Homo sapiens: one gene and its partners. The protein of the gene in region 4 interacts with the protein of the main gene of each other region in a pairwise test. Each region holds a gene or a part of one and is shown on either strand. Other genes may lie near its edges.

Region 1 (7,606 bases), on a different chromosome or scaffold from region 4:
GTCTTAAACTTCTTTTACTTTGTTTTTCGAGATAGCGTCTCACTCTATTGCTCAGGCTGGAATGTAGCAGCACAATCATGCCTCACTGCGGCCTCAACCTCCTGGGATCAAGAGATTCTCCCACCTCCCACCTCAGCCTTCCAGGTAGCTGGAACTACAGGCATGCGCCACCACACCTGGCTAATTTTTTGCATTCTTTTTGTAGAGACATGGTTTCACCATGCTGGCTGGCCTCAAACTCCTGGGCTCAAGCAATATACCTGCCTCAGCCTCCCAAAGTGCTACGATTACAGGCGTGAGCCACTGCACCCAGCCTGCCTTATACTTCTTTACTATCTCCACGTAGGTGACCTCATGGCATCTTTTGGTCAGCAAGTAAATGAAATGGAGCGAGATGGCATCACAGGGTGATTCATACCTGCAGGAGCTGAGTGGCTGTGGCCCTCTGCTCAGGGCTCTTTACAAGACACTGTTTCACAAAATCTGTAAAGTTATCTGACCATAGCTCTGGTTTTCGGAATGTGGGAGGAGGATTTGTAGGAATCATGAAGATTGCCTGGTTAGAACAAACAAACAAACAAAAAGATCTGGTAAAATAAAAGTAATGCTCCAATAAAAAATACATGTGGAATTACATTTGAAGCTTGGTAAATGATTTTTCACTTACCCACTGAGAAGCTCACCCAAATTCCAACAAAAGTCTAAGCATCTGATGGTTAAAGAACCTGATATATCTCCCTCTCTCCTTTTCCCTCTCTCATATATGGGTCTTGTTCCCTAAACCTCACAACATCAATCAAGCTTTTTTATTATTATTATTTTGGTAACCACAGTACATTGCCTTTCAAAGTAGAAAGGCGAGACCTAAGAGTATCTACATCCTAAAGATAACCTTGACCCCATAGTTGTCAAGTTTCCCTGCCTCTTAAAAGTTATTACCACCCCCAGATGTCAGCAGCAACTACACAATAAGGTCATCAACCAGAAGTCCCAAAAATCACAATGGGGTCATTAACTTCCAAAGTAAGCTAAATCAACGCATGTGTGAGGGGGAAAAATTAAAAATTGGCCCACTACGTTGCAGTTACATTCTACTATGTCCAAAAATAAGACTATTATTTATTAAATTTCCAATTTTAAAAAAGCCATGTTTTTTGAAAAGTAAAACACTATACAAATAAGCAGCTTAAATTATATTCTTTAAATCTAAAATTGTAACTAGTAAATCTCCTCACTCCTTCTCCCAAAAAAGAGGGAGGACTTACCTTGGGAACATGAATTTGTGTAAGTCTTTTAATAGGAGAATTAATTAGTCAGAGAAGAGGAAGAGCTGTGGTAAGGAAGGATGGAGAGGACCACAGAGCCCCTGAGGAAGGCAGGGTTGGCGGGGGGGTGTATTACAACAGTGCTGTGATGAAGGGTTCTGGGACAGTTAAGCCTGGGAACTGCTTAGGGTGTGAGCACTGGAAGAGCTTCACTGGAGATGCATTCTATGGGCCCTTAACATTCTAGAAGGAGACAGGGGTTGGAGAGTACACAGCCTCCAGATGAAGAGGATATGGGGATCTACAAACCAAAACTTACAAATTCAAAACACCTATAGGGGCCAGGCAGAAGAAAGATAAAAAATGAACAAGGCTGGGTTTCAGTGACATGAGTTCAAAAATACAGTTTGCTTTCTTCTTAACACTATTATAAGAAAAACATTAGAGAAATACTGTAATAAGTGGCAGCTAATACTTGGTGACACAACAGGGAATCATGGAGACTGATAAAGTAGAGAGTTCATACTCTGAACCACTACTCAGCTCTAGTGAATGTTGACATGTTAAAATGTGGTTGTCTAAACTATTCAAAATGAGTGAGTGACAGACAGAGAGAGAGAGTAGCACAAATCAAACTAAGCATTTCTATGGCCTATGTCCTGCCAGAGGGCTATCAATACACAACCTCTGGAATGGAGAGGGGTGGAACACACTTAAATTAATTAATGACTACAACTAGAGTCAGTAGAGGTGTATCATCTATAGCGACACTTACAAATTTACACATAATTCATTTATTGTTTGCAACTTAAACAAGTAAGCCATTGAACTTTTTTTTTTTTTTTTTTTTTTTTGAGATGGAGTCTCACTCTCTCTCCCAGGCTAGAGTACAGTGTCACGATCTCAGCTCACTGCAACCTCTGCCTCTGGGGTTCAAGTGATTCTCATGCCTCAGTCTCCCAAGCAGCTGGGATTACAGGCGCACGCCACCACACCCAGCTAATTTTTGTATTTTTAGTAGAGACAAGGTTTCACCATGTTGGCCAGGTTGGTCTCAAACTCCTGACCTCTGGTGATCCATCCACCTCAGCCTCCCAAAGTGCTGGGATTACACGTGTGAGCCACAACACCTGGCTTGAACTTCACTTTTTAATGATGATCAGTAACTAACCACCCCACTGGCTTTCTGTCCACTTTCTTACCCTCATTGGATGGATATCAGCATAAGGGGGCTTTCCTTCAGCCATTTCTATGGCAGTTATTCCCAGGGACCAGATGTCTGCTACACAGTTGTATCCAATTTCCTGAATCACTTCTGGAGCCATCCAAAATGGTGTTCCTATCACTGTATTCCGCTTGGCCATGGTATCCTAAAATAGAAAGGGAGAGAGACTGACACTAAGCTTAAAACTACTGAGATGTCCACAGAGGAAGTCTACAGAGAAAAAAAGAAGAAAAAAAAAAAAACTACTGAGAAAAAGAGGCTTTTCCAACAATAAAAAAATGCCTTGTACTTGAAATACATATAAAAACCATACTCTGAGCATGATCAAGCAGGCATAGAAGAAATTCAAATGACAAAGAAACACAAAAAGATTCTCAATCAATTATTAAAACAAAAACTAAAATGACTGACAAAAAATTTTAAATTAATAATTAATGCTGATAATAGCATAGAAAATCAGGCACCGAAATAAAATGTTACTGTAGTATAAATTGGTACATTTTAGTACATAAGTTGGCAATATTTATTCAACTTTTAAATATTCATATCCTTTGATCCAAATCTATTTCTTGAAATCTATCTTATGTTCAAGTATCTCAAACGATATGCACAAAGACTGTAGAAATGTCTGTAATGGGGGAGATGAGGAGGAAAAGGAAACAACTCAAATGATCATCAAAAGATAGTAAGTTAAATATAATAAATAACCATATACTGAAACACCATATTAAAAAGAAAAAAAAAAGAAGATATATACCTTTTCCTAGCATGAAAAAAATGCACAACATACATTACAAAGCAAAAAAAAGTTGTACAATTATATATAATATAGCCCTGTTTTTGTAAAAGGAAAATATATATAATAATGATGATCATAACAATAATAAAACAATAACCAATAATATGAAACACTGTTATATCATAGCACAAAAAATCTGGAGTAATACACACCAAACCATTAATTATATCTAGTAGGCAGAATCACTAAAGATTTTTACTGTCTATCCTGTATACATCTGTAACATTCTGAAGGTTTATATGAGCATACATGTGCAATAAAAAAATTTTAAACTTGATATATAAAAAATAATATACAAAATATCTTAGTTTATGGGCTAAAGAAGAATATGTGGATACAGTACACATTACAGCAAATAACCACTTGCATACTTTCTCAGGATGGCATGGCCCTACTGAAAGAGAACCTCCCTACAGTTCCTATGCTTTAGCAAAAGAAGGATTTTTTTTTTTTTTTTGAGAAAGAGTTTTGATCTTCTGCCCAGGCTGGAGTGAAGAGGCACAATCTTGGCTCACTGCAACCTCCGCCCCTGGGGTTCAAGCGACTCTCCTGACTGAGTCTCCCAAGTAGCTTGGATTACAGGCGCCCACCATCATGCCCGACTAATTTTTGTATTTTTAGTAGAGACAAGGTCTCGCCACATTGGCCAGGCTGGTCTCAAACTCCTGACCTCAGGTGATCCACCTGCCTCGGCCTCCCGAAGTGCTGGGATTACAGGCATGAGCCACAATGCCCAGCAAAAGAAGAATTTTTAAACAGAACTAAATACGAAAAAGGACTTCCGATCATCATCACTGATATTCCTTCTGAAATGCCTGTGATTTAGGCTATGCCAGTCAGAAGCAAATGACAGGTCATTTAAATCAATCTCATTGTCAGTCCTATGTAAAAAACTAACACAGGAACTAACTTACTGCTTAGTCATTTCCTTAGCTCTGAAACTTCAAATTTGCAAGGGTGTTTTCAAATGGTGATAGTCAAAATTGTTTTCACTGGATTATTTCAATTAGAAATGGTTACTTGGATAGCTAGAAAGTTTTTGAAAATTAATAAGAGCAATGAGTGTACACTAACCCCACTTAGATTTGTATTATAAAGTTATATTAGTACAATAGCATAGCAATAAAAAATATAAAGTCCAGAAGTTCACTATGGCATATGTGTATATGTATGTGTGTGTGTACATATATATCATATATATGTATATATAATAACCTGTTATATATACCACATATACATATGATTTATGATTAAAATGTCATTTAAAATCAGCAAGCAAAGAATAGATTATGAAAAAAAAAAGCACTGGGAATCTAGTCATTTGTAGAACTCTACACTTAAATGCCTACCTTATACTTTCACCAAAATAAGTTCAAATAAGTTGAAATTTTAAACATAAAAAACAAAGCCCAACGAATACTTTAAAGAAGTACATTAGACAGTCAGGCACGGTGGCTCATGCCTATAATCCCAGCACTTTGGGAGGCAGAGGTGGGCAGATTGCCTGAGCTCAGGAGTTCGAAACCAGCCTGGGAAACATAGCGAAATCCCGTCTCTACTAAAAGTACAAAAAATTAGCCGGGTGTGGTAGCAGGTACCTGTAATCCCAGCTACTCGGGAGGCTGAAGCACGAGAATCACTTGAACCTGGGAGGTGAAGGTTACAGTGAGCCAAGATTGCGCTACTGTCCTCTAGCCTAGGTGACAGAGCGAGACTGTCTCAAAAACAAAAAACAAAAAACAAACAAAAAAAAAACAGTACATTAGCCAGGCATGGTGGCACATGCCTGTAGTCCTAGCTACTTGGGAGGCTAAGGTGGGAGGATCACTTGAGCCCAGAAGTTCAAGATTACAGTGAACTATGATCATGCCACTGCACTCCAGCCTGAGCAACAGAGCAGGTGTGCTGGCTTATACCTCTAATCCCAATACTTTGGGAGGCAGAGGCAGGAGTTCCGGACCAGCCTGGGTAAAATAGGGAGAGCCTATCTCTATAAAAAATGTTAAAATTTTAACTGGGCGAAGTGGCACACACCTGTAGTCCTAGCTACTTGGGAGCCTGAAGCAAGAGGATTGCTTGAGCCCAGGAGTTTGACACCACAATGAGCCATGATCATGCCACTGTACTCCAGCCTGGGTGCCAGGGCAAGACCTTGTCTCAAAAAAAAATAAAATAAAATAAAATAATAAAAAATAAAAAAAACATAGATTAACCATTCTATAATGTTAAGGAGAAAAGGATTTTTTAAGCATGACATCAAAGATAGAAACCATAAGATAAAAGGTAGATGGATTTTTCTATATAAAATTTGGAAACTTATGTAGTATTTTTTTAAAAAGCCATAATCAAAATTAAAAGACAACTAGTAAACTAGAAGATATTTCAGCATATACAAAATAGGAGTAACAATTTTAACATAAATTTTTTTAGTTTATCTTTTTTAATAAGATTTATTTAAAAGATGCAACACTCAGCCAGGCACAATGGCTCAAACCTGTAATCCCAGCACTTTGGCACGCCAAGGGGGGCAGATTGCTTGAGCTCAGGAGTTTGAGACCAGCCTGGTCAACATGGTGAAACTATGTCTCTACAAAAACTACTAAAAATTAGCTGGGGGTGGTGGTGTGCGTCTGTAGTCCCAGCTACCCAAGAGGCCAAAAGTGGGGGTATCACCTAAGCCTGGTGGTTGAGGCTGCAGTGAGCCGTGATTGTGCCACTGCACTCCAGGCTGGGTGACAGAGCAAGACCCTGTCTCCCAAAAACAAAAAAAAAAAGTACAACATTCAATTAGGAAAACTGACACAAAAATGAACATTTACAAACGAATTTTTATAAATGGCCAATAATTAAATGCAAAAATATGTCAACTGCTTTGAGAAATAGCAGGGAAGATACAAGTTGCTGCCCATTCAGCATTAGCAAATATGAGGGGAAAAGAGCACATTTATATACTGAAGTTGGAAACTGAAACTGTTCACTTCTAGAAGAAATTCAGCACTATGCATCAAAAGCACTTTGCCAATATACATTCACATATTTTCTGACCTAGATTCCAATGTAAATAAATTATCCTAAGGATTTACTCAAGGAAATGCTGAAAAATTTAGTTGCAAGAATGTTAATCACAGAGTTTATGTTTATAGTGGTGGGAAAACTCTAAGCAACCTTAATGGGCACCCAACATCCAACTGTAGGGAAAGAGTTAAATAAATCATGCTATATCCATACAATGAAATACCCATGTTGCCACCAGAAATAATATTACAGAGTCTTGGGTAAAGATGACAGCTTGAGCAAATACATTTTACTTTCACTATCTCTCAAAACTCACTCAAAAAGATACTAAAAGGATTGTTTTTTAAGAATAAATCTACAAGAATAAAAAAACAAAGGGGAAAATAACTACAGCCACAGAATTTTAAAAGCTGGAGAGCAGATGGCCCAATAGTAACTAACTGAACAGACTATCAGATGGAATCCTCAGTCAGTCGCCAGGAAAACTAGGAAACAACCTGATTTTAACACCAACCCCTCCAAAAGACTTAGAAATTGGTGGCATCAGGCAGAGAAAAGAGGGGTGAAAACGGACATCCAAATAGGAAGCCTGGGTTGAAAGAGTTAAGAAGCAGCTAAGCACCCTAAACCTTCCTCTCCCATCAAGCAACTAGTGGGCTTCCCTCGCCCCACCCTGGCATTAGACTGGAGGTGTACTCTCTGGGGAGTGAAACCGAGGATCTCTAGACTATAGAGAGTGTGGGTGGTGTTGTGAATCAGGAACATTAAATGAGCATTAACATGTTAACAATCCCCACTGCCACCACCACCACCACTTCCCAGAAAGCTGCCAACAAGGCCTACAGCCTCTAGACAAGAGACCGGAGAGGGGCCTAAACTTAGTAGTACTGGAGGTTTCACAACCAAACAGCCAAGTCAGATCATCTTGTACTACAGTTTCAGTTTATTTTAGTGAAGGAAAAAAAATCTCATTTTTTTTAACAAAACAACATACATGTTCACAGTTAATTTAAAAAAAAAAAAGTCCAGCAAGGTGCCAGGACACAAGATAATATACAAAAATCAATTGTATGTTACACTAGCAATGAACAATCTGAAAATAAGGCAAATCCATTTAAAATAGTATCAAAAAGTACAAACTACTTAGGAATGAATTTAACCAAATACATGCAAAACTTGTACACTGCAAATTATAAAACATTGCTAAAAGAATTAAAGAAAATCTAAATAAATGGAAAGACAGCTTATATTCATAGATCGGAAGACAATATTGCCAAAATGGCAGTATTTTCAAGCTGATTT
Region 2 (8,060 bases), on a different chromosome or scaffold from region 4:
CCTATATCTATTAAAGAAATTGAATCAATGACTGATAAGCTTCCAAAAGAGTAAACAACAGTCCCAAATGAGCTCACTGGTGAATGCTGTCAAATCTTTAGGAAGGAATGATATCAATTCTCTACAAACAAGCACAAAGATGAAAAGATGCTTTATATCATGGATCATTAGGGAACTGCAAATTAAAACAACAATCAGATATCACTACACATGTATTAGAGTGGATAAAATCCAAAACACTGACAAGACACATACTGGAGAGGATGTAGGGCATAGAATCTCTCATTCAGTAATGATGGCAGTGCAAAGATGGTACAGCCTCGTTGGAAGACAGTTTGTCAATATCTTACAAAATTAAAATACTCTCGTCATATGATTCAGCAGTTACTCTCCTTGGTATTTAGTCAAATGGGTTGAAAACTGATGTCCACACCAAAACTTGAATACAAATGTTCAAAGCAGCTTTATTCCTAATTGTCAAAACTTAGCAGAAACCAACAAGAATTAAGTGTCCCACAAGCATACAATGAAATATTGTTTAGTGATTAAACAATGTGTTATTAAGCTATGAAAAGACATGCAGGAGCCTAAATGCATATTGCTAAGTGAAAGTAGCCTATTTGAAAAGGTTACATGCTGTAGGATTCTAACTATATGACATTCTGGAAAAGGCAAAATTATGGAGACAGTTAAAAAAAGGGGGGTTCTGGGGGGATGGGGGAATAAGGGGAACACAGTGGATTTTTTTTAGTATAGTGAAACTGTTCTGTATGATACTGTTATAGTGTGTACGTGTCATTCATTTTAAAAAACCCATAAGATATATAATAGAAAGATTAAACTCTAATATAAATGGTTAACTTTAATTAATAAAAATGTATCAATATTAGCTCATCAATTTTAACAAGTATACCACATTAATGTGTGATAATAATAGGAGAAACTGTGTGTGAACCGATGAGAGGGTATAAGAGAATTCTTTGTATTTACCACCGAATTTTTCTGTAAACTTGGAAACTGCTCTACAAAATAAAGTATGCCCATTAAAACTCCATCCCTGTGTTATATATTTAGAGTAGTTTGTTTTCCTGGAATAACCCATGAATATTTGCAGTTAGCTAATTATTTGTATTGATTTTCTCATCTGAAGCTCTTTCAGCCATTAACAATTTTAAGCAGCCATTTTAAGAATGGCTGCTTAAAAAAACATCCATTCTGTCATTAGTAATTAAATTTGCTCAAGTGTCTTCTATCATTAAGTAAAATATAACACAACACAACATACCATGGCTCTTTAAACCTCCTTTAAATAATTCTCTGTTTCTGTCCTAAATAAATTTTACACTCCCTAGTTTTTGTATGCATAAACACACACACAAAATATATACATATATTTATATTTAGATATTGAAAATATTATAGAGCATTAAGAGATATATGTTCAGCTTGTAAAAAAATTGAGCTCTACACATAAAGTTCTATTAGCATAATTGTTGAAAAGTAGCCCAAGCAGTACTTATGGGGATATTTATTGCATTAAATAGATTTACTATAAAAAAGTTTGAAACATTGTAACAATTCAAGAAGCTAGAGAATGAATAGCATATTAAACACAAAGAAGAAGGTAGGAATAATGAAGATAAATTCAAAAGTGATAAATGAGAAAATAGTCAAACCAACTAGTAAAAGCCAGTTCTTTGAAAGGATTTATATAACAATGTGTATGAGTACCATCAATTACAAATGAAAAAAGCAGAAATAAATGATATTAGATAAGTAAAATTATACAAAACTTAGGTGTAGAAAAGATGTAATACTAATAGAGAACACCGTAAGTGTTATCAAGTATTATCTGTATCTCAAGATAACAAATGATGGACAAGGAGAAGGTTCTATCTGAAAAATTTCGGGTAATAAACTCAAAAGAATTTTAGAATCAGAGAATTACCATCTTGCAACCCATGATAGATTAATGGATAAAAGTGATGGCTGCCAACATCATCACAAAAGAAACAACAGAAATTATATATCTCTTAATGAAACTGCACCATATCACCTCTGGAGTGCACTTGCCAATAAACTTTAATATGAACAATATTCTACTCATAAAAATTGAAGATTATTAGTGACAAATCTTAGCTAATTGAGTTTATTATTCTATTCTCTGTACTACTGCATATATTTGAGAATTTCCATAACAGGATTTTATTATGAATATCATGCTTTTAAATATGAAAACCTAAGTAAAATGGAACAATTTTTAGCAAAATGAAAATGACTCATAAAAATACAGAACTCTTTGAATGCACAGTAGAAAATGAAACTATAGTCCAAACCCAAAGTACCTTCAAACTGTTTTAGGACCAGCCAGGTTTAGAGACCCATTACATCAAATGGTGAAGAAGAAACTAATCACCACTTCATGTAAACTCTTCCAAACAACACGAAAAGATTGGGAGAATTACTCCATCATTTTAACAAGCTTGCTTTCTTTGACACAAAGACCAGATGAAGATAGTCCAATAAAACAACATTTGAGATCAGTTCATTCACATAGAGACAAAATATTCTCAATAAATTCATAGTATATCCAATATAGGCATATCCAATATAGCAGTGAATTAATGAATAAATAGCCTGCATCCAAGAAATGCAAAGATGATACCATATTAGAAAATACCATCAATTGGAAATCACTATGTTACCAAAAATGGTGAAAAAGCATGTGATCATGTGCAGGGGTAAAGGAGAAGCCTTAAAAAACCCTCAATACCAGTGTATGATAGTAACTTTTAGCAAACTTACATTAGGAGAGAATTTCCATCTTGTAAAATCTATAATTGACATACTAAATGTGAAACATTACAAACATCCCGAATAGAGTCCAGAAGAATATACACCTGTATAGTATAAACCCTACTGCTGACAACTGGATGAAAATACATCTATAGTTCACAACTATAATAATAATACCGAGTAAATTAGAGGTAACAATAACAAAAGGAGATAATTGTGATAATATAATCTCCTAATTTAAAAATAAAACAACGTAATTGGTGCAAAAATATTTAAATGTATAAGGAAATAAAGAAAACGTGTGTACAAAAGATCACCATAGGTAAGTCAGGAGTATAGTCACACAAAATCAATAACTAATTATAATATGTAATGTGAAATATGCCTTTCACAACAGCAACAATATCCAAAATATATCTAACAGAAAACCAAATAGAAATGTACATGTTCATTAAGGAGACAGCTATAAAAATTTACTGAAAGACTTAGGAAAAATAAATCTCCAATAAAGCAGTGTACTATGTTTATTTACTGTGGAGGAGATATTGTAAAGTTATTGATTCTCCTTAAATTTTTTACAGATTCATTGCCTTAGCCATAGCTGTGAAGATGACAACCAAACCCGGGTGGTTCTTTCCCATGACCAAACTCAACCATAGAAAAGTTAAAGGAAGAATTTTTTTTTAAAAAAAAAGCAGTATTAACAACAGCAAAACAACAAAAATGCGAACCTTGAGAGATGGTCAGTTTGTATTGAACAAGAATGGGTGTGTGGGCAGGTAGGGGCATGAGCTGAAGTAGAGACAGGTCTGTGGCCTACAACAGACGCAGATAACGGAATTGGCTAGAGGAAAAGCTTTAAAACTTTGGTCTTTGCTTCTTTCACTGTGCCATTGGACAATGCATTTTTTTTTCTGCTTCACTAAAGGAAATTCAGTCAGAAACTTGGACCCTATGTGCCAGTTCCATGGGGTAATATTGCCACAGCAAAAACATCTGGGTAGGCTGAAGAAGTATGAATCCAGACACTGTGCTAATAACTACCTGAAACTTCTTTAGTGGAAGTGGACTGGCCTTTAAATTCGTATTATTTTAATATAATATAAAGAATGGACTAAATTAGGATAGCAAATATTGCAGTGAGTCACACAAGATAATGGTAGAAATTCATTCATGAAGGTGTTGAATACAGACACTGATGTCAGCCAAGAGAGAAGTCCCAGACATAGCTATCAGGCTAAGAAGTCTTCTCACTTTCTCCTTATGAATTTTACAGGATCTAGTCAGAGGAAGGGGATGAATTTACATCAGAAAATGGAGAAAACTGAGACCCTGCCAGCAGTCAATGTGAGGACCCTGAGTGAGGACTGAGGGGCTCCACATATCAGAAGAGACAAGAGTGCCCCCCAAATCTCCCTTCATTCCCCGATCTTGCATCACAACTTAATAGCAGCAGCCAGGTTTAGGAGGCCCCAGGCAGTAGTGGCCAGGTGAGGTGTAACTGAATTGCACATGAGGAGTCTCAGGAAGTTGAAGTCTAGTCTGAGAGGGTGTCCTCAAGTCAGTAGAGGGGACATGGCAAGAATGAAGCGACGACACTGAGTGAGGGCTGAGGGCAAAGTCCATTCCAAAAAGGGGGTCTCACAGAGCTCCACCCCTACTGTCAGTCTTGGAAGGTCCCGGCATGGCTCCCGAGCTCAGGCTGCACCTTACTTCCAACTCTGGACTCTCAGGGAATGAGAGCCTCTATCTCCGGTTGACTGATTCAGCTCAACAGATAGAGAAGTCCAAGGGTCCGCGAAGAGCCCCTGAAAGAACTTTACGTGAGTTCCCTGGAATCTGCTGCACCCACAGAACACAAGGGGGAGTAACAGAGCCCTGCAGCTACTGTTACGCAGGGAGCGCCAGGTGGGCGTGGCCGGAAGTGGTTCCTCTTGACTTCCACCTAATAAAGGGGTCTGAGCCGGTCGCCTGAGCCTGAAAAGTGCTGTCACGTCAGCGGAAGGAGGCGTCCCAGATCTTCTCAGCTGTCTTGGTGGGTATCCTGACCTAGAACGGGGGGCATTCCCCGACAACTTCAACCCCCTTCCCCCGAAGAAAGGCGGCTCCACAGAGCCCTGCCCCAACCTGCCCCGACCTGGTCCCTGAGGAGTCCCCAAACATGGCTGTTAGGCCCAAAGTCCATTCATTTTTTTCCGTCGTGTTGAAGAACATGAAGGCCTCGGTCCAAGGCTTGTGGACCCAGGTCAGTAGAGGGAGAAATCTCAGGCCCTACATAGTTAAGAGGACCCTCCTTAGAATTGAGGGAGGGGATTCCATGTCCCGTAACGGGTTGCACCGAACTCTGCCCTTGACGTTAGCCTGGGGGTCCGGGCAGGTCTCTAGAGACTGAGGTGCATTCTCACTTTGTCCCTGTGAGAGTCAGAGAGGTAGGCCCCTGGTTGTAAGGAGATGGCAGCAGGTCAGTGAGGGTGATTTCCAGGTTGTGGGAAGAGTCAGGGTGAGGAGTCTAATTACTGTGAGGAGCATTCTCACTATAACTGGAAGAGCACTCAAATGCCTCCGCTGTTGTCAGCCCTAGGTGGTCTGGGTGTCCCCGGAATGAAGTGTTGGGCAGAAGTGCTTCCTTATTTCCTCCGGGTTAAAATTCCTACTGTCAATTTCAGAGTGGCACAAGGAAATGGGCCTCTGGGTCTTGTCAACAATTTTTTTTTTATTATACTTTAAGTTTTAGGGTACATGTGCACAATGTGCAGGTTTGTTACATATGTATACATGTGCCATGCTGGTGTGCTGCACCCATTAACTCGTCATTTAGCACTAGGTATATCTCCTAATGCTATCCCTCCCCCCTCCCCCCACCCCACAACAGTCCTCGGAGTGTGATGTTCCCCTTCCTGTGTCCATGTGTTCTCACTGTTAACTTCCCACCTATGAGTGAGAACATGCGGTGTTTGGTTTTTTGTCCTTGCGATAGTTTGCTGAGAATGATGGTTTCCAGTTTTAATGATGATCCTGAATGTAAACAGAGAGGATCCAACCCCTGAACAGAGGGGCCCCCACTGCCAGCCCCTGCTGTCACCTCAGTAAGCCCCAAAATGGGCTGTCATGCTATAGTCTAATACTCTAACTTCCTCCTGAGTTTGAAGGAGACAAACTGACCAGGAGAAAAGGAGTCCTGTGGGTTCCTAGAGCAGCTGTTCTGCGGAAACCTGCAGAAGGGGCCCTAGTTAAAGCCAAGATGGTCGCTCTCTGCTGAAGATATTGACGTGACGTCACTCTCTCCCATCCAGGTGCCAGCCTTCCTAGTCTTCCTACCCACACTCCTACCTGCTGTCACAGGCCACAGCCATCATGCCTCGGGGTCACAAGAGTAAGCTCCGTACCTGTGAGAAACGCCAAGAGACCAATGGTCAGCCACAGGGTCTCACGGGTCCCCAGGCCACTGCAGAGAAGCAGGAAGAGTCCCACTCTTCCTCATCCTCTTCTCGCGCTTGTCTGGGTGATTGTCGTAGGTCTTCTGATGCCTCCATTCCTCAGGAGTCTCAGGGAGTGTCACCCACTGGGTCTCCTGATGCAGTTGTTTCATATTCAAAATCCGATGTGGCTGCCAACGGCCAAGATGAGAAAAGTCCAAGCACCTCCCGTGATGCCTCCGTTCCTCAGGAGTCTCAGGGAGCTTCACCCACTGGCTCTCCTGATGCAGGTGTTTCAGGCTCAAAATATGATGTGGCTGCCAACGGCCAAGATGAGAAAAGTCCAAGCACTTCCCATGATGTCTCCGTTCCTCAGGAGTCTCAGGGAGCTTCACCCACTGGCTCGCCTGATGCAGGTGTTTCAGGCTCAAAATATGATGTGGCTGCCGAGGGTGAAGATGAGGAAAGTGTAAGCGCCTCACAGAAAGCCATCATTTTTAAGCGCTTAAGCAAAGATGCTGTAAAGAAGAAGGCGTGCACGTTGGCGCAATTCCTGCAGAAGAAGTTTGAGAAGAAAGAGTCCATTTTGAAGGCAGACATGCTGAAGTGTGTCCGCAGAGAGTACAAGCCCTACTTCCCTCAGATCCTCAACAGAACCTCCCAACATTTGGTGGTGGCCTTTGGCGTTGAATTGAAAGAAATGGATTCCAGCGGCGAGTCCTACACCCTTGTCAGCAAGCTAGGCCTCCCCAGTGAAGGAATTCTGAGTGGTGATAATGCGCTGCCGAAGTCGGGTCTCCTGATGTCGCTCCTGGTTGTGATCTTCATGAACGGCAACTGTGCCACTGAAGAGGAGGTCTGGGAGTTCCTGGGTCTGTTGGGGATATATGATGGGATCCTGCATTCAATCTATGGGGATGCTCGGAAGATCATTACTGAAGATTTGGTGCAAGATAAGTACGTGGTTTACCGGCAGGTGTGCAACAGTGATCCTCCATGCTATGAGTTCCTGTGGGGTCCACGAGCCTATGCTGAAACCACCAAGATGAGAGTCCTGCGTGTTTTGGCCGACAGCAGTAACACCAGTCCCGGTTTATACCCACATCTGTATGAAGACGCTTTGATAGATGAGGTAGAGAGAGCATTGAGACTGAGAGCTTAAGGCAGGGCTGGCACTATTTCCTTGGCCAGGGTACCTTATGGGGCCATATCCTACAGATCCTCCCATTTCTAGGGAGGTCTGAAGTAGAATTTTCACTTTATGTTAGAAGAGAGTAGTGAGCTTTCTAAGTAGTGCAGTATAGTAGAGGCTGGAGGGAACAAGATATGTATCTTTCTTTTGTTACACATGAGTAACTTGCAGATTTATGTTTTATCTCTGTCAGTTATCAACATTGTTCCTGTTAAGTGAAGGTTTATTTTGCTTCAGATTATACAATTATCAATAACATAGCTCTCACATTCATGGCTGTTTAACCAATCTGAAAGTTACGGTTTGGGAATTAATAAAACAAAGTCATACAACACATTTTCTTTGTAATTGAGAACTAGATAACATGGTAACAGAGAATTGATTTTCATATGAATCTTAACTCCACAGTAAAATAGTTGACATCATAATATGAAGAGAAAGAAAAGGAAAAACAGAAATGTAAAAGTTGTTTAATTCTTGGTTTGCCTAATTCGTTTTCCTATTTCTTTTCATACAAATAAAGGATACCTGGATTTATTTAGGTTATTAAGACTGCCGTTAGTTTGTTTTGTTCTAGTGCACTTCATATTCCATGTTATCTACTGCATCAAAAAACCCCTCTGATTGGAGGGTGGTATTTTCTGGGTTTAAAATAA
Region 3 (7,482 bases), on a different chromosome or scaffold from region 4:
CAATGGCACTATCTAGGCTCACTGCAACCTCCACCTCCCGGGTTCAAGTGATTCTCCTGCCTCAGCCTCCCGAGTCGCTGGGATTACAGGCGCCTGCCATCACGTCCAGGTAATATTTGTATTTTTAATAGAGACAGGGTCTCACCATGTTGGCCAGGCTGGTCTTGAACTCCTGACCTCAGGTGATCCACCTGCCTCGGCCTCCCAAAGTGCTAGGATTACAGGCATGAGCCACCACGCCCAGCCGGCTTTTTTTTTTTTTTTAACTAGTCAAGGACAGTAGTGAAAAAGGGAGGGGAGAAAAATTTTCTGCAATTTCTTTTTTTTTTTTTTGAGACAGAGTCTCGCTCTGTCACCCAAGCTGGAGTGCAGTGGTGCAATCTCGACTCGCTGCAACCTCCACCTCCCAGGTTCAAGCAATTCTCAGGCCTCAACCACCCGAATAGCCGGAACTACAGCCGCCTACCACCATGCCTGGCTAATTTTATTATTTTTAGTAGAGACGAGGTTTCACCATGTTGGGCAGGCTGGTCTCAAACTCCTCACCTCAAGTGATCCGCCCAACTTCACTTCCCAAAGTGTTGGGATCACAGGTACGAGCCAGCTCACCCAGCCTGTTTTCAGCAATTTCTTTCCCGCCATGCAGCCCTCCTGCAGTTGCCTCAAGTTACTTTCAAGATGTGACTGTTGAGCAGTTTCCTGCTAATAGAGGGTCAGAATGATCACACTTCTCTCAGCCCCTACACAGCAAGCCAGATCTCCATTTGGCTGTTTTCTCTTTCTGGCAAAAATTGTTCAAATGAGCTAGAGTCAAATATAAGTATTCACAAAACACTGGGGTCATTTAAAAAAATCATTTGCTGAAATTGAAGAGTTTATGGTGCCAAGTAATATATTTGAAAAGAAAATTTGCCCAAGTCAATGGATTTCAAAACACTTGACTTATAACCACAGGAAGAAATATATGTGGGATCTAGTACATTCATACATACATAAATCTAAAACATACCTGGGAGTGGTGGCGCGTGCCTGTAATCCCAGCTACTCAGGGGGCTGAGGCAGGAGAATCGCTTGAACCTGGGAGCCAGAGGTTGCAGTGAGCCGAGATGGTGCCACTGCACTCCAGCCTGGACAACACAGCGAGATTCATTCTCAAAAAATAATAAAATAAAATAAAATAAAATAAAATAAAATAAAATAAAATAAAAATAAAATAAAAGCTTCACAAAATAATACTCACCTTTACTGTGATTCGCCTTTATATATGATTTTTCTTTTCTATTCTTATTTCATTTTAAATAAAGTTGTTCACTATTCACTAAATTGTTTCTCAACCGTCTGTTTATTCTCATTGGTTGGGTGTTCAAGATCTTTTCTTTTCAGAGCCCGCAATTTTATCAATAAAATTTTTGTTGTTGTTTGTAGTTTGAGACAGAGTCTCGCTCTGCTGCCCAGGCTGGAGTGCAGTGGCGCAATCTCGGCTCACTGCAACCTCCGTCTCCCAGGTTCAAGCGATTCTCTTGCCTTAGCCTCCTGAGTAGCTGGGATTACAGGCAACCGCCAACAGGCTCGGCTAATTTTTGTATTTTTAGTAGAGACGAGGTTTCACCATGTTGGCCAGGCTGGTCTCAAACTACTGACCTCAAGTGATCCACCTGCCTCGGCCTCCCAAAGTGCTGGGATTACAGGCGTGAGCCACCGCGCCCGGCCAAAGGCAAGATTTTAATCTAGGGTGCCATGACTCTTCAGTACTTTTTTTCACCACGACTATATTTTTATAAAACTTAAAGAACTGTTTCGACCTGAATATGAGATTGGGCAGTTGAGAGTAATGTTTGAGAGTACTGCATGGGTCAATGATAATATTTCTGAATAGTTTGGAAGTATTAAAACTGAAGAAAATAATTATACTTGCCGGGTGCAGTGGCTCACGCCCGTAATCCCAGCACTTTGGGAGGCCGAGGCGGGCAGATCGCCTGAGCTCAGGAGTTTGAGACCAGCCTGGCCAACATGGTGAAACCCTGTCTCTACTAAAAATACAAAAAAATTGCCTGGGCGTGGTGGCAGGCACCTGTAATCCCAGCTACTTAGGAGGCTGAGGCAGGAGAATCGCTTGAACCCGGGAGTCAGAGGTTGCAGTGAGCCGAGATCATGCCACTGCACTCCAGCCTGGGCAACAGAGCAAGACCCCATCTGGGCGGGGCGGGGTAGAAAATAATTATACTGTAATAATCTGGAAAAAAAATGTTCACACAGTATTAATGTGTGATAATCATCTCATACATTCCAGAAATGAGGTTTGAGAGCCTTCACTGACCATGTGTCATATCCATTTATTTTGGGATCCCTTTCACCCCATTTTTAACTTCCTCCCAGTTGCCCAATGTCCTCTGGAGTTTTCCATCCAAGACCCCCATCTTTTTTTTTCCCTTTCCCCCCTTTTTAGCTTCCTCCCAGTTGCCCAATGTCCTCTGGAGTTTTCCATCCAAGAACTCCAGCTTCTTTTTTTGGGGGTGGGGGAGGACGGGGTTTCACTCTTGTTGCTCAGGCTGGAGTGCAATGGCGCGATCTCGGCTCACTGCAACCTCCGCTTCCCGGGTTCAAGCGATCCTCCTGCCTCAGCCTCCCGAGTAGCCGGGATTACAGGCGCGTGTCGGGATCACACGTGTGAGCCACCACGCCCAGTCCCCCCATCTTCTTAAAGGGGTTAATTTCTTGGCTCTTGCATTTTGACTTTTCCATCATTCCAATTGCCATCCTGTGTCCTGCTCTTTCCCAAGGGTTGCATTCTTACTCTGCTGAATGCTATATTATTGGATTTATGAACAATTGTTAATGTATTATAATTGTCTGATACTTTGATTTACCAGAATGAACACTTCTATAAGTAGGACTGGATCGAACTTGTTCACAATTGGAATCTTGGTGCAAATCCTAGTTCTAAGGGATACAAAGCACAAAATATTTGCGAAATAGAACAAGCTTTCAGACTTCATACTGGCATGTATCTTTGCCTTATGCCAAAGATGTGACGATGTGACTAAATACGGAAGTTTTGTTTTGCTATTGAGCCAAGGTCTTGCTCTGTCATTCAGGCTGGAGCGCAGTGGTGCAATCATAGCTCAGTGTAACCTCCAACTCCCGGGCTCAAGCGATCCTCCCAGCTCAGCCTCCCTAATAGCTGGGATTACAGGCAGGCACCACCGCACCCAATTAATTTTTAATTTGTGTGTGTGTGTGTGTGTGTAGAGACAGGGTTTCAGTAGTTGCCTCCCAAAGTTCTGGGATTACAGGCATGAGCTACCATGCAGGACCTGTTTTGTTTTAATACTTAGTAATTGGGTGTAAAGTCCTTCAAAAAACAGGTGGGGCAGGTGGGAAACTCCCTTTGTGTGACCCTCTAGCACCAGGGATAAAATTTCAACTTCATCTTAAAGCGACAACATACTTTTCCAAGACCAAGTGCGAAATAGTAAAGGGAAGAGCTAGCTCCGTAGCCGTCCGCCACAGAATGCCACAAGCTTTCAATTATGGGACAAAATTGGAACACATGGAAACCCTGTGCAGACTCCCGTGACATCTTCCCTCCTCTCCAAGTCCCTTCCCACAGACCTTGCGCCCCACACGATTATTCCCCAGGGGCCGAGCAGGACGACTTGGGTCCCACTATCCGGACTCAGCGGTGCCCCCACAAAAGCGTCCCAAAAACTCCAGCTGGGGCAGCCCTGGGGCAGATGCTGAAAAGTTGTCAGAGGCCCTCGGGCAGTCCCGAGATCTACCCCAGGCCAGAGGGCCTGACCCTCCCTAAATGCGACGTTCTCCTACCTTGGTTGATACTCACGTTCCCAGAAAAGGGTGGAACCTAGGCTGGACGAGGCGCAGGGCCAAAGTTTAATTCCTCTAAGCTCCACCCAGCTCCCAGCACCTCTCCAGGCGGCCCCGTGGGGTAGGGCGGAGCCGGGTCCAACGTACTCCGCTTCCCCCGCTCCACCCACCCAGGGCTAGGGAGCGCCCCGAGAGTTGGCCTCCTCCCACGCTGCGCGCGCACCTCCCCGCCCCCACCCCTACCCGCTGGCGTGCCCAGTGGAACGGAGCCTTGTGTCTCCGCCTCAAGTCCCCGGATGCTCACCTCCCCGACTCGCCCCCGCTGTGGCCCCGCCCCCGCGCGGCTCTTCGTGCCACGTCACCGCCTGCGTCGCTTCCGGAGGCGCAGCGGGCGATGACGTAGAGGGACGTGCCCTCTATATGAGGTTGGGGAGCGGCTGAGTCGGCCTTTTCCGCCCGCTCCCCCCTCCCCCCGAGCGCCGCTCCGGCTGCACCGCGCTCGCTCCGAGTTTCAGGCTCGTGCTAAGCTAGCGCCGTCGTCGTCTCCCTTCAGTCGCCATCATGATTATCTACCGGGACCTCATCAGCCGTGAGTCCTCACTGCACTATCCTTACTGCCGCACACGGGGGTCTGGGGTGCGGGTGGGGGCGGGGAAGGCGCAGCCGTCGCGGGCCTAGGGGACGCCGGCGGTCTTAGCCGAGCGCGGAGGGGTCGGTGCCCGGGGCTCGCGCCCAGCTCTGGTGTGCTACGGAGGGGCAGATCCCGCGTGCGGCCGCCGGCGCGGGAAATGCGGGAAATGGCGGCGCCAGGCGCACGGTGATGGGCGGCTCTGTGTATCCGGCAGACGATGAGATGTTCTCCGACATCTACAAGATCCGGGAGATCGCGGACGGGTTGTGCCTGGAGGTGGAGGGGAAGGTGAGTCGGTCGGGCCTGCGCGTGGGGGAGTCCGGGCCGAGCGGGCTCGGGTTTCCTCCGCTCCCCCGCCTGAGGTTGTGCAATCCTCCCCGCCGCCTCCTGGCGGAGGAGACGCTCTTTCCGGGCTTGGGTTTTTCTAGAAAACTGGAGGCGGAGCTGATCCTGGAAATAGGCCCGCCGCCTCGGCGCCCATCCTCCTCCCGGGGTTGTCCGGGACATGATGCTTCCGGCTTAGGAGCCTGGAGTCCTTTCGTGTTTGTCCTGTCCCCACTTACCAACCGGAGGCATCACATGCCCGCAACTGGAAACAACTTTTTAATGACCCCATTTTTTGTTCCGGCCAACAGACAACTCTTTTAAGTTAGGTCGTTTTGAGAAATCCACGGGTCACAACTTTATTCCCAAAATGGTGCTTTTTTTATTTTCAGCAAGAACTAAGAATACTTCTTATCCGTGAACTATTGGCGTGGAAGGTGCTTTGGATGCGTTTGTGTCTTTTGCAATTATACTGCTTTTTCTTAATGCAGATGGTCAGTAGGACAGAAGGTAACATTGATGACTCGCTCATTGGTGGAAATGCCTCCGCTGAAGGCCCCGAGGGCGAAGGTACCGAAAGCACAGTAATCACTGGTGTCGATATTGTCATGAACCATCACCTGCAGGAAACAAGTTTCACAAAAGAAGCCTACAAGAAGTACATCAAAGATTACATGAAATCGTAAGTGATACTGGCAGTACCTAGCTGATGTCTAGAATCTTACAGGATTTAAAGATTGGCTAACTTTTGAGGTTCTTTCGCAGTGGGTATACTTTTGTGAAAGTCCTTGCTTTTTTATTAATGAGTTCACGGAAAAGAGTGGTTGCTTTTCTATAATATGAGCATACTGAAGCCTGCAGTCTGTTTCCGTTTAGAATTAGAATAGTATTTTGAAAATAGTCAACAAGAAATGTAAACATTCTTGAAAGATACCTTCTGTGAACTAGTAATTTCTTAACAGCTGGTTGCCTTTTTCAGTGTTTTCTTTTTTTAAGCTTGGATATTTTTTACTTTAAAAATTGATTTTACTGAAAATTCAATACTTCAACCTGTTAATGAAATGTTGTTTTAGAATCAAAGGGAAACTTGAAGAACAGAGACCAGAAAGAGTAAAACCTTTTATGACAGGGGCTGCAGAACAAATCAAGCACATCCTTGCTAATTTCAAAAACTACCAGGTAAATACCTTAAGTATCTGGATCAAAGGATTGTACAATTTTAACTGCAAGAGCAAAAATTAAGTTGATTAATCTTCAATTCTATACTAGTATTCCAGGTGTAGAAAGTGGCTTTCCCAGCTCGCAGGTGTTTCCAAATCTTGTCTTCTGATTGAAAATTTGCTTCCCAGATGACATTTCTCAGTTTTTCTTTTTGTGAATTGCTTAACCACCTAAGTGTTCTTTCAGTTTTTTGCTTACAATTTTAATGTGTCTCATTGCTACTGGTCCTCCTTCTAATGTATCTGAGCTTGTTAATTCTACTTTTGGAAAATGTCAGTGGCTTTCCCTTTCCTCTAATTTTCCAGCTTCATGCATCCCCTGGCCATAAGATACTTCCAGACTGTATGATATATTCTATCACTGTCAGCCTTATGTTCCCTGTGGTTGACTATATAAGCACGCTTTAGGGTTTGGGATTGTATTTAGGATTGAGAGTAAAGGTTTCCTGAAAGCCTAGTGTTCCTGGATTGCTCTGTACGTTATTTTTCTATTTAGGTCACTATTAAGGTGCCTTAATCCAGTGAACAGATGTCTATGATAAGTGAGCATCAGAGCTTTTGGGTACTGAAGTTTTGATTTTTGTGGTGGTCTAAACCTTCCCTTGTACTGTAGTTTGTTTTGAATGGCATGTATTTGTATGTAATAGTCTAATTCTAGGTATTTTGTTTGCTTCCCAAGTTCTTTATTGGTGAAAACATGAATCCAGATGGCATGGTTGCTCTATTGGACTACCGTGAGGATGGTGTGACCCCATATATGATTTTCTTTAAGGATGGTTTAGAAATGGAAAAATGTGTAAGTACAAGGAAGTGGGTTAAAATAAATAATGTAAAAAAGACATTTTAGATGTGATTTGCAATTGTTTTGTGACACTGAGAATGAGTTTTACAGCGTTCTGAAACATGGTTTTAGTTTTCTCTTTGGGGATCAAGAGAATTGTGTTTCATATGTAAAAAATTCTTAGGGTATAAAAAGGCTTAGAATCTTATTTGTGGAAAACGTTGAGTGCAGATGGGGCATAATAAAGTACAGTTTAGGCTGGGTGTGGTGGCTCACACCTGTAATTTCAGCACTTGGGACGCCGAGGTGGGTGCATCACCTGAGGTTGGGAGTTCGAGACCAGCCTGGCCAACATGGCGAAACCCTATCTCTGCTAAAAATACAAAAATTAGCCAGGCATGGCAGCGGGCACCTGTAATCCCAGCTAATCGAGAGCCTGAGGCAGGAAAATCACTTAAACCTGGGAGGGGGGTTGCAGTGAGCAGAGATCCCACCACTGCACTCTATCCTGGGTGACAGAGTGAGGTGCTGTCTCAAAAAAATACAGTAGAGTTTAAATGCTGAAGGAGATCAGAGAACACCATTGATCTTCCTCTAGATATGGCCTCACTTTCACTTCATAATCATATTTTGCTGTATACGTATGGATCAGTATCAGTGGTTTTCACTTTGGTTTACTGATAATGGGCAGCTGATCATTG
Region 4 (7,606 bases):
CCCCTGCAATCAGTCTTAGATCATTCACCCTTTTAGTATGAGCTAACCATTTTACAAACATATAATCATCACCACAGCCTTAAGATACTATCATGCCTAATTTATTCATGTAGCACTTGAAATTTAAATTTTCCACAAAAAAAGGCAAAGTTTAAATAATTTGCCAACACTCTCTAATCCTTAAGGGGAAAAAAAAGCTAAATAAACGACACACATAGGACTATGTAAACCCTTAACACTAAACTGTTTCTGACAGCCCTTCAGAGCTCTGAAGACAGCAAACTCAGTCTGCCTTCTCAGCATTCTTCTAACTCTACCAAACTGGATAGCCTGAACCTTATAAAGGATCAAGAACTTAACAGAAGCCCCCGCTTGTTTCATTAAGTAACTGCCATCTACCCCTTGGTAAGCAAAAGGCAGAGTTTGAAATTTTTCATAGATTTATACAGAAAGCACAGCCTTCAACCTTTTCCTGACAATGCCTAAGAATGTGCCTCAGGCTAGCCTGAAGAAAATGAGGCAAGGGGACTAATCTCTTATTTTTCTTTTTTTTTTTTTTTTTTTTTTTTTTTGAGATGGAGTCTCCCTCTGTTGCCCAGGCTGGAGTACGGTGGCGCAATCTCCACCTCCGTCTCACTGCAACCTCGGTCTCCCGGGTTCAAGCGATTCTCCTGCATCAGCCTCCCAAATAGCTAGGATTACAGGCGCCCACCACCACACCTGGCTAATTTTTGAGACAGTCTCACATTGTCGCCCAGGCTGGAGTGCAGTGGCGCGATCTCAGCTCACTGCAAGCTCCACCTCCGGGGTTCATGCCATTCTCCTGCCTCAGCCTCCCGAGTAGCTGGGACTATACAAAAATAGTGGGGCGTGGTGGTGGACCCCTGTAGTCCTAGCTACTCAGGAGGCTGAGGCAAGAGAATCACTTGAACCCAGGAGGTGGAGGCTGCAGTGAGCTGAGATCACACCACTGCACTCCAGTCTGGGCGACAAAACAAGACTCTGTCTCAAAAAAAAAAAGTGTTTGGCATTCATTGGCTCTTAAATGGTACCTATTTAAGAGGCTGTACATGTTCCAGTGGGATGGGAAGCAGCAGAGACCAACAGAGTCTGAAGAAGCAAGCTTCTGAGTTATGAAAGCCTGGGTTCAGGAGACTAACCTATATGTAGGTTCCTAGGAAAGTCCAGTTAAAGGGCCTACTTTGCCACTGCTGCCTCCTTCTTAATGCTGAACCTCATCTCCCACAAGGGGGCAGTCTCAGCAGGTGTCAGCTGAGCCATGTGTCATCTGTCCAGGCTAACTGCCCACACATCCTTCTGCAAAGGGTACCTCTTGGTTATCAGTGCTCACTGATCCCTATATAATCAGACTCTAATCCCTGTAAAAAGATTACTTGGTGCTAGCCAAGCTAGCACCTTTGGGTCTTCCCAAACATACACCACTAATCCAGACTCTAATAACTTCATTTCCTTTAAATTACAAGATCAGAGCTGAAATAGGCCTTAGAAAGCTAGTCTGGGCTGGGCGCAATGGCTCAGGGGAGGCGGAGGTTGCAGTGAGCCAAGACTGCGCCACTGCACTCCAGCCTGGGCAACAGAGCAAGACTCCATCTTGCAAAAAATAAATAAATAAATAAAAATATGAACTATATGGATTAACCTCTTCTCTCAATAAAGTTATTTAAAAAATGGCATGCTTTATCTCTAGAGGTGATTCCCAACCATTTTGTTTTGCCCTAATACATCTGTGAGATCATCCTACATTCAGTAAGTTAGATCTTTGGGAGTGACTGATTCTAAATGAGCAGGACAGAAGAGAGGAGTATGTATACTTTGAATAAAAAGCCTTTATATTCTCCTTCCCAAGCTTTTCCATTACCCTCACCCTCACAACACACTGTAATCCAGGGGCTTCAATTTATGAAGAGAGATACCCATTTTCTTATTTGGTAGCTTCTGTTCCTACTATCTTTCCCATTCTACCACTGTGGGGAAAAGAGAGATCAGATTGTTACTGTCTCTGTGTAGAAAGAAGTAGACAGAGGAGACTCCATTTTGTTCTGTACTAAGAAAAATTCTTCTGCCTTGAGATGCTGTTAATCTGTAACCTTATCCCCAACCCTGTGCTCCCTGAAACATGTGCTGTGTCAACTCAGGGTTAAATGGATTAAGGGCTGTGCAAGATATGCTTTGTTAAAACAAATGCTTGAAGGCAGCATGCTCGTTTTAAGAGTCATCACCACTCCCTAATCTCAAGTATCCGGGGACACAAACACTGCGGAAGGCCACAGGGACCTCTGCCTAGGAAACCCAGGTATTGTCCAAGGTTTCTCCCCATGTGATAGTCTGAAATATGGCCTCGTGGGAAGGGAAAGACCTGACCGGGGTCCCCCAGCCTGACACCCTGTGCTAAGGAGGATTAGTAAAAGAGGAAGGAACGCCTCTTTGCAGTTGAGACAAGAGGAAGGCATCTGTCTCCAGCCAGTCCCTGGGCAATGGAATGTCTCAGTGTAAAACCCAATTGTATGTTCCATCTACTGAGACAGGGGAAAACCGCCTCAGGGGTGGAGGTGGGACATGCGGGCAGCAATACTGCTCTTTAAGGCATTGAGATGTTTATGTGTATGCACATCTAAAGCACAGCACTTAATTCTTTACCTTGTTCATGATGCAGAGACCTTTGTTCACGTGTTTATCTGCTGACCTTCTCTCCACTATTATCCTATGACCCTGCCACATCCCCCTCTCCGAGAAACACCCAAGAATGATCAATAAATACTAAGGGAACTCAGAGGCCGGCGGGATCCTCTGTATGCTGAACACTGGTCCCCTGGGCCCCCTTATTTCTTTCTCTATACTTTGTCTACGTGTCTTTTTCCAAGTCTCTCATTCCACCTAACGAGAAACACCCACAGGTGTGAAGGGGCAACCCACCCCTTCATACCACCACTCTGTTGTCCTGTTATCAGACAGATGGCTTACCTTCCCCATGTTTGTCAGTGAACTGGAAGGCCTGAACTAGTCTCAAAGTCTCATCCACAGAGCGGCCAACAGGGAGGTCATTTACAGTGATCTGCCGAAGAATACCCTTATCATCAATGATAAAAAGGCCCCTGGGAAAAGAGATGAAAGGAAAAGCAATACAGGTTTAGAGATGTGCTTTGTTAGAATACAGAGGCTTGAAGCCTGAAGGAAATGGACTGGTCTCCACACTCCTACTGGCCTGGCCTTAGTGAGGAGGCCCCTGCATAAAGGAATGAAATGACAAGGAGTCTCTACAGATCAGGGCTCTAGATCTCTCCAAATAAAAGGCTTTCAGCCAACTGGATACTTGTCCTGATGACATACCTGAACGAGATGCCTTCATCAGCCTTTAAGACCCCATAATCCTGAGCAATGGTGCGCTTCGGGTCTGATACCAAAGGAATGTTCATGGGTCCCAGTCCTCCTTGTTTCTTAGGTGTATTGACCCTATGGCAAAAGGCAAACATACAGTTACATTCAAACTCTTGACTTGACTGTACGCATTCCTCTTTCCCCTTTCCCATATTCCTAATCTAACTTTCCAAAAAGACTGTTTTTTTTCCGTTTTCCAGCAATAAAGTGAATGCTGAGAACAGTTAAGGTAGGTCACTAGGGTACACTCAACTGCAATTGAAGCTGCTTCTTCTCTGCTGCCAGGTCATGAGAGCAATAAGAGAAAGTCAGACTTTGCACTCCCTTCAATGAGAAGGCAATACTTGAAAGTCTATTGCCAAAGCTTCCCAGTTGCTGTTTTAAAAGTTCACATGCCAGCCAGGTGCAGTGGCTCACACCTGTAATCCCAGCACTTTGGGAGGCTGAGGTGGGCAGATCACGAGGTCAGGAGATCAAGAACATCCTGACTAACACGGTGAAACACCGTCTCTACTGAAAATACAAAAAATTAGCCAGGTATGGTGGCAGGCGCCTGTAGTCCCAGCTACTCAGGAGGCTGAGGCAGGAGAATGGCGTGAAACTGGGAGGCAGAGCTTGAAGTGAGCGGAGATCACACCACTGCACTCCAGCCTGGGCGACAAAGCAAGACTCCATCTCAAAAAAAAAAAAAAAAAAAAAAAAGTTCACATGCCAAATAGACCAAGAGATTTACCATGCTAGATGACAGAAGTGAGAATCCACAGAAGCACCAATCACTTGGCAGTTGAGTTTCTTAAATTCTTCTGCCCTATCACTGAAAGCAATGATCTCCGTGGGGCACACAAAGGTGAAGTCAAGAGGGTAAAAGAAGAACACAACATATTTTCCTGGGGGGAAAATCGGAGTCATGGTTAGCATTTGACACAGACTTCCTTGCTTTATATTTTCCTATACAAAAAGAAGCAAGTTGATGGCTGACACAATAACCACTAACTGCCAAGATGCTCAATACAGATGTCTCCTAGAAGCTACTTTTAGAACCTGGTGCATTAGGAATACCTGAATGAAAAAAACTTCCAATCCCATACTTTATTCTCCTGCCTCCATGTCATAGCTACCAATACAGAGTAAACACTGTTCAGTCTAATTTTGATCTTTTCTGAGTGGCTAAAATTAACATAAACACCAAGTTCTCCAAAGATAGCAAAAGCAAGGATGCACTTATAAGCATGGCCTAATGCCAATGCTTAACAATACCCAGAGAAAGCTGAATTGCAGTACTCCTCTGCTGTAGAGATAAGACACCAATAAGAAGTCACAGCCTTTGCACTTCTCCCGTGATGAACCATAGTAATGGAACAAGCATGGTTTAAGTGATCACATGTGTTCCTAACGTGCCTGACAGGACAGGAAAAATTTTAAGCCAGGCACAGTGGTGCGTGTCTGTAGTCCCAGCTACTTGGGAGGCTGAGGTGGGAGGATCCCTTGACCCCAGGAGTTTGAGGCCAGCCTGGGCAACACAGCAAGACTGTCTCAAAACAACAGAAATATATATATACATATACACAGAGAGAGAGAGAGAAAGAGGGAGACAGAGAGAGACAGAAAAGACAAAAGTACTAGTGAGTAACAGAACTTCTAGCTGCAATTTTAATGAAGTCACTGGGATTAACCACTGAAATAACAGATCTTCAAACTGGCCAGGCAGCCTTCTCGCCACACCCACCAGGCTTAAATACTAGAACAATTCCAAATATTCACTCATTTCCAGGTAGCAGCAATGTTTGAAAAGTCAAACAGGCTGGGTGTGGTGGCATGGTGGCTGACGTCTGTAATCCCAGCAGTTTGGGAGGCAGTTTGGGAGGCCGAGGCGGGTGGATCACCTGAGGTCAGGAGTTCAAGACCAGGCTGACCAACATGGTAAAACATGTCTCTACTAAAAATACAAAAATTAGCTGGGTGTGACAGCGGGGGCCTGAAATCTCAGCTACTGGGGAGGCTGAGCCAGGAGAATCACTTGAACCGGGGAGATGGAGGTCGCAGTGACCTGAGATCATGCCACTGCACTACAGCCTGTGCGACAAGATCAAAATTCCACCTCAAAAAAAAAAAAAAAAAGCCAAACAAGCAGCCCTTTTTGACATTTACCACTTTGCAGTATCACTGGAAACTAACTCATCTAAACAACCCTTCCAGCTTTGCCTAACAAGCACTTTGGGGCCTCAGCAGGTCAAGCTCTGGAGGGCAGAGAACAGCTCCTCCTAGACCTCCTGCTTATACCCCTGGGCCCAGGTCACCTCCCTATGGTGCAACTTACCTTGTTTGCTGGGAGAAGCCCCAAGAACAAAGTGTGATTATGTCAGGAAACCTAGTCAAATGTTCTACCAAAAACTAACTCCAGGGACTAATGCTACACCACTGAGAAAAGGACACTTGACACCTGAGTTTCAGGTTAGCATTCTAAGGAATCTATATCCTCAACTGTCCCAGGAGATCGAGCTGCTCTGGAACTACAAGGTAAAGAAAGGAGGAGCCTCAACAGAACTTGCCAAGTGTCTGCATGAAACTATGACAACAGAGGCCGGGCGCAGTGGCTCACGCCTGTAATCCCAGAACTTTGGGAGGCCAAGGCAGGCGGATCACAAGGTCAGGAGATCGAGACCATCCTGGCAAACATGGTGAAACCCCGTCTCTACTAAAAATACAAAAAAATTAGCCAAGCATGGTTGCGGGCGCCTGTAGTCCCAGCTACTCAAGAGGCTGAGGCCTGAGAATGGCATGAACCCAGAAGGCGGAGCTTGCAGTGAGCTGAGATCGCACCACTGCACTCTAGCCTGGGCGACAAAGCGAGACTCCGTCTCAAAAAAAAAAAAAAAAAAAAAAACTATGACAACAGAAAGGAGAGTTGTTCCATCTGTAATATCAACTCTCCTCCGGGGTCAAAACAGGCAAGGGAAAGTGCCTAGCCCTCAGCCTAATATTAACAGCTGTGATATATACGTGACCCAAACAAACTGAACGAGCAGTGTCACAGCTCCAGAGATTTGAGTGAGCTCTGAGACTTTAAATGTAGAATGTCTCTTATAACAAGAGATAATGAGTATTTCTCCAATAATAAAATAGAGGAGGGCCAGAGGCAGTGGCTCACACCTGTTATCCCAGCACTTTGAAAGGCTAGGGCAGGCAGAGGGCTTGAGCCCAGGAGTTGGAGACCAGCCTGGGCAACATGGCGCCCAGCTCTACAAAAAGTACAAAAATTAAGCCAGGCGTGGTGGCTCATGCCTGTAATCCCAGCATTTTGGGACGCCGAGGTGGGCGGATCATCTGAGGTCAGGAGTTCGAGACCAGCCTGACCACCATGGAGAAACCCCGTCTCTACTAAAAATACAAAAAAAAATTAGCCAGGCATGATGGCGCATGCCTGTAATCCCAGCTACTCGGGAGGCTGAGGCAGGAGAATTGCTTGAACCTGGGCAGTGGAGGTTGTGGTGAGCCGAGATCACGCCATTGCACTCTAGCCTGGGCAACAAGAGCAAAACTCCATCTCAAAAAAAAAAAAAAAAAAAAAAAGTACAAAAATTAGCCAGGCATGGCAGCATGCCCCTACAGTCCCAGCTACTTGGGAGGCTGAGGTAGGAGGACCACCTGAGCCCAGAGAGGTAGAGGCTGCAGTGAGCCATGACTGCGCCACTGCACTCCAGCCTGGGTGACAGAATGAGACCCTGTCTCAAAAATAAAAATAAAGAAAGAAAATAGACGAGGAATACTGAAAAGATAATTGAGCTAGTATGTCCAGACATAATGAAGCATGTGGTTTCTCCAGAAGTGGTTTGGTCCTAGGATATATACCCTGTAATCACTTGATAATCACCACTTCAACATGAAGGTAACAACCTAAATACTTCTTCCTAGGAGACAAAACATTTTACAGTCAAACAACATTGACACAAATCTAACAAGCCACCCCTAGAATATAAAATAACTCCATCTCAATGAGCCCAGTGTTAATTCTCTCACCTTTGTAGTCAGACAGGCTGATATCTTTAAACTGACCATCTGGCATAACAGCTGTGGCTTTGAAGTTGGGGGCAGGGTGCCCAATTTTAGCATTTCCTGAAGACATCTTCCTATCAGCTAGAAATAACAGAAATGAATTAGAAACAAGCCTTAATTTTCTACATAACCAGCAGCCTTCACCTACTTAAAGAGA

The links.
Region 1: the proteins of PRDX1 (region 4) and STK4 interact in binary tests that used the Homo sapiens proteins (3 or more experiments, as listed by UniProt).
Region 2: the proteins of PRDX1 (region 4) and MAGEB6 interact in binary tests that used the Homo sapiens proteins (3 or more experiments, as listed by UniProt).
Region 3: the proteins of PRDX1 (region 4) and TPT1 interact in binary tests that used the Homo sapiens proteins (3 or more experiments, as listed by UniProt).

What each region holds. Positions count from the first base shown.
Region 1 is NC_000020.11:44,990,119-44,997,724, reverse strand, and holds part of STK4 (serine/threonine-protein kinase 4), read right to left. Parts: intron 2,636-7,606; coding exon 2,468-2,635; intron 557-2,467; coding exon 419-556; intron 1-418. UniProt on the Homo sapiens protein: Stress-activated, pro-apoptotic kinase which, following caspase-cleavage, enters the nucleus and induces chromatin condensation followed by internucleosomal DNA fragmentation.
Region 2 is NC_000023.11:26,187,697-26,195,756, forward strand, and holds MAGEB6 (melanoma-associated antigen B6), read left to right. Parts: upstream 1-4,743; 5' UTR 4,744-4,831; intron 4,832-6,089; 5' UTR 6,090-6,150; coding exon 6,151-7,374; 3' UTR 7,375-7,950; downstream 7,951-8,060.
Region 3 is NC_000013.11:45,337,974-45,345,455, reverse strand, and holds the start of TPT1 (translationally-controlled tumor protein), read left to right. Parts: upstream 1-4,272; 5' UTR 4,273-4,386; coding exon 4,387-4,414; intron 4,415-4,670; coding exon 4,671-4,744; intron 4,745-5,271; coding exon 5,272-5,462; intron 5,463-5,853; coding exon 5,854-5,959; intron 5,960-6,679; coding exon 6,680-6,796; intron 6,797-7,482. UniProt on the Homo sapiens protein: Involved in calcium binding and microtubule stabilization. Acts as a negative regulator of TSC22D1-mediated apoptosis, via interaction with and destabilization of TSC22D1 protein.
Region 4 is NC_000001.11:45,511,525-45,519,130, forward strand, and holds part of PRDX1 (peroxiredoxin-1), read right to left. Parts: intron 7,531-7,606; 5' UTR 7,520-7,530; coding exon 7,414-7,519; intron 4,284-7,413; coding exon 4,130-4,283; intron 3,472-4,129; coding exon 3,349-3,471; intron 3,114-3,348; coding exon 2,983-3,113; intron 1,859-2,982; exon of another isoform or gene 1-1,858. UniProt on the Homo sapiens protein: Thiol-specific peroxidase that catalyzes the reduction of hydrogen peroxide and organic hydroperoxides to water and alcohols, respectively.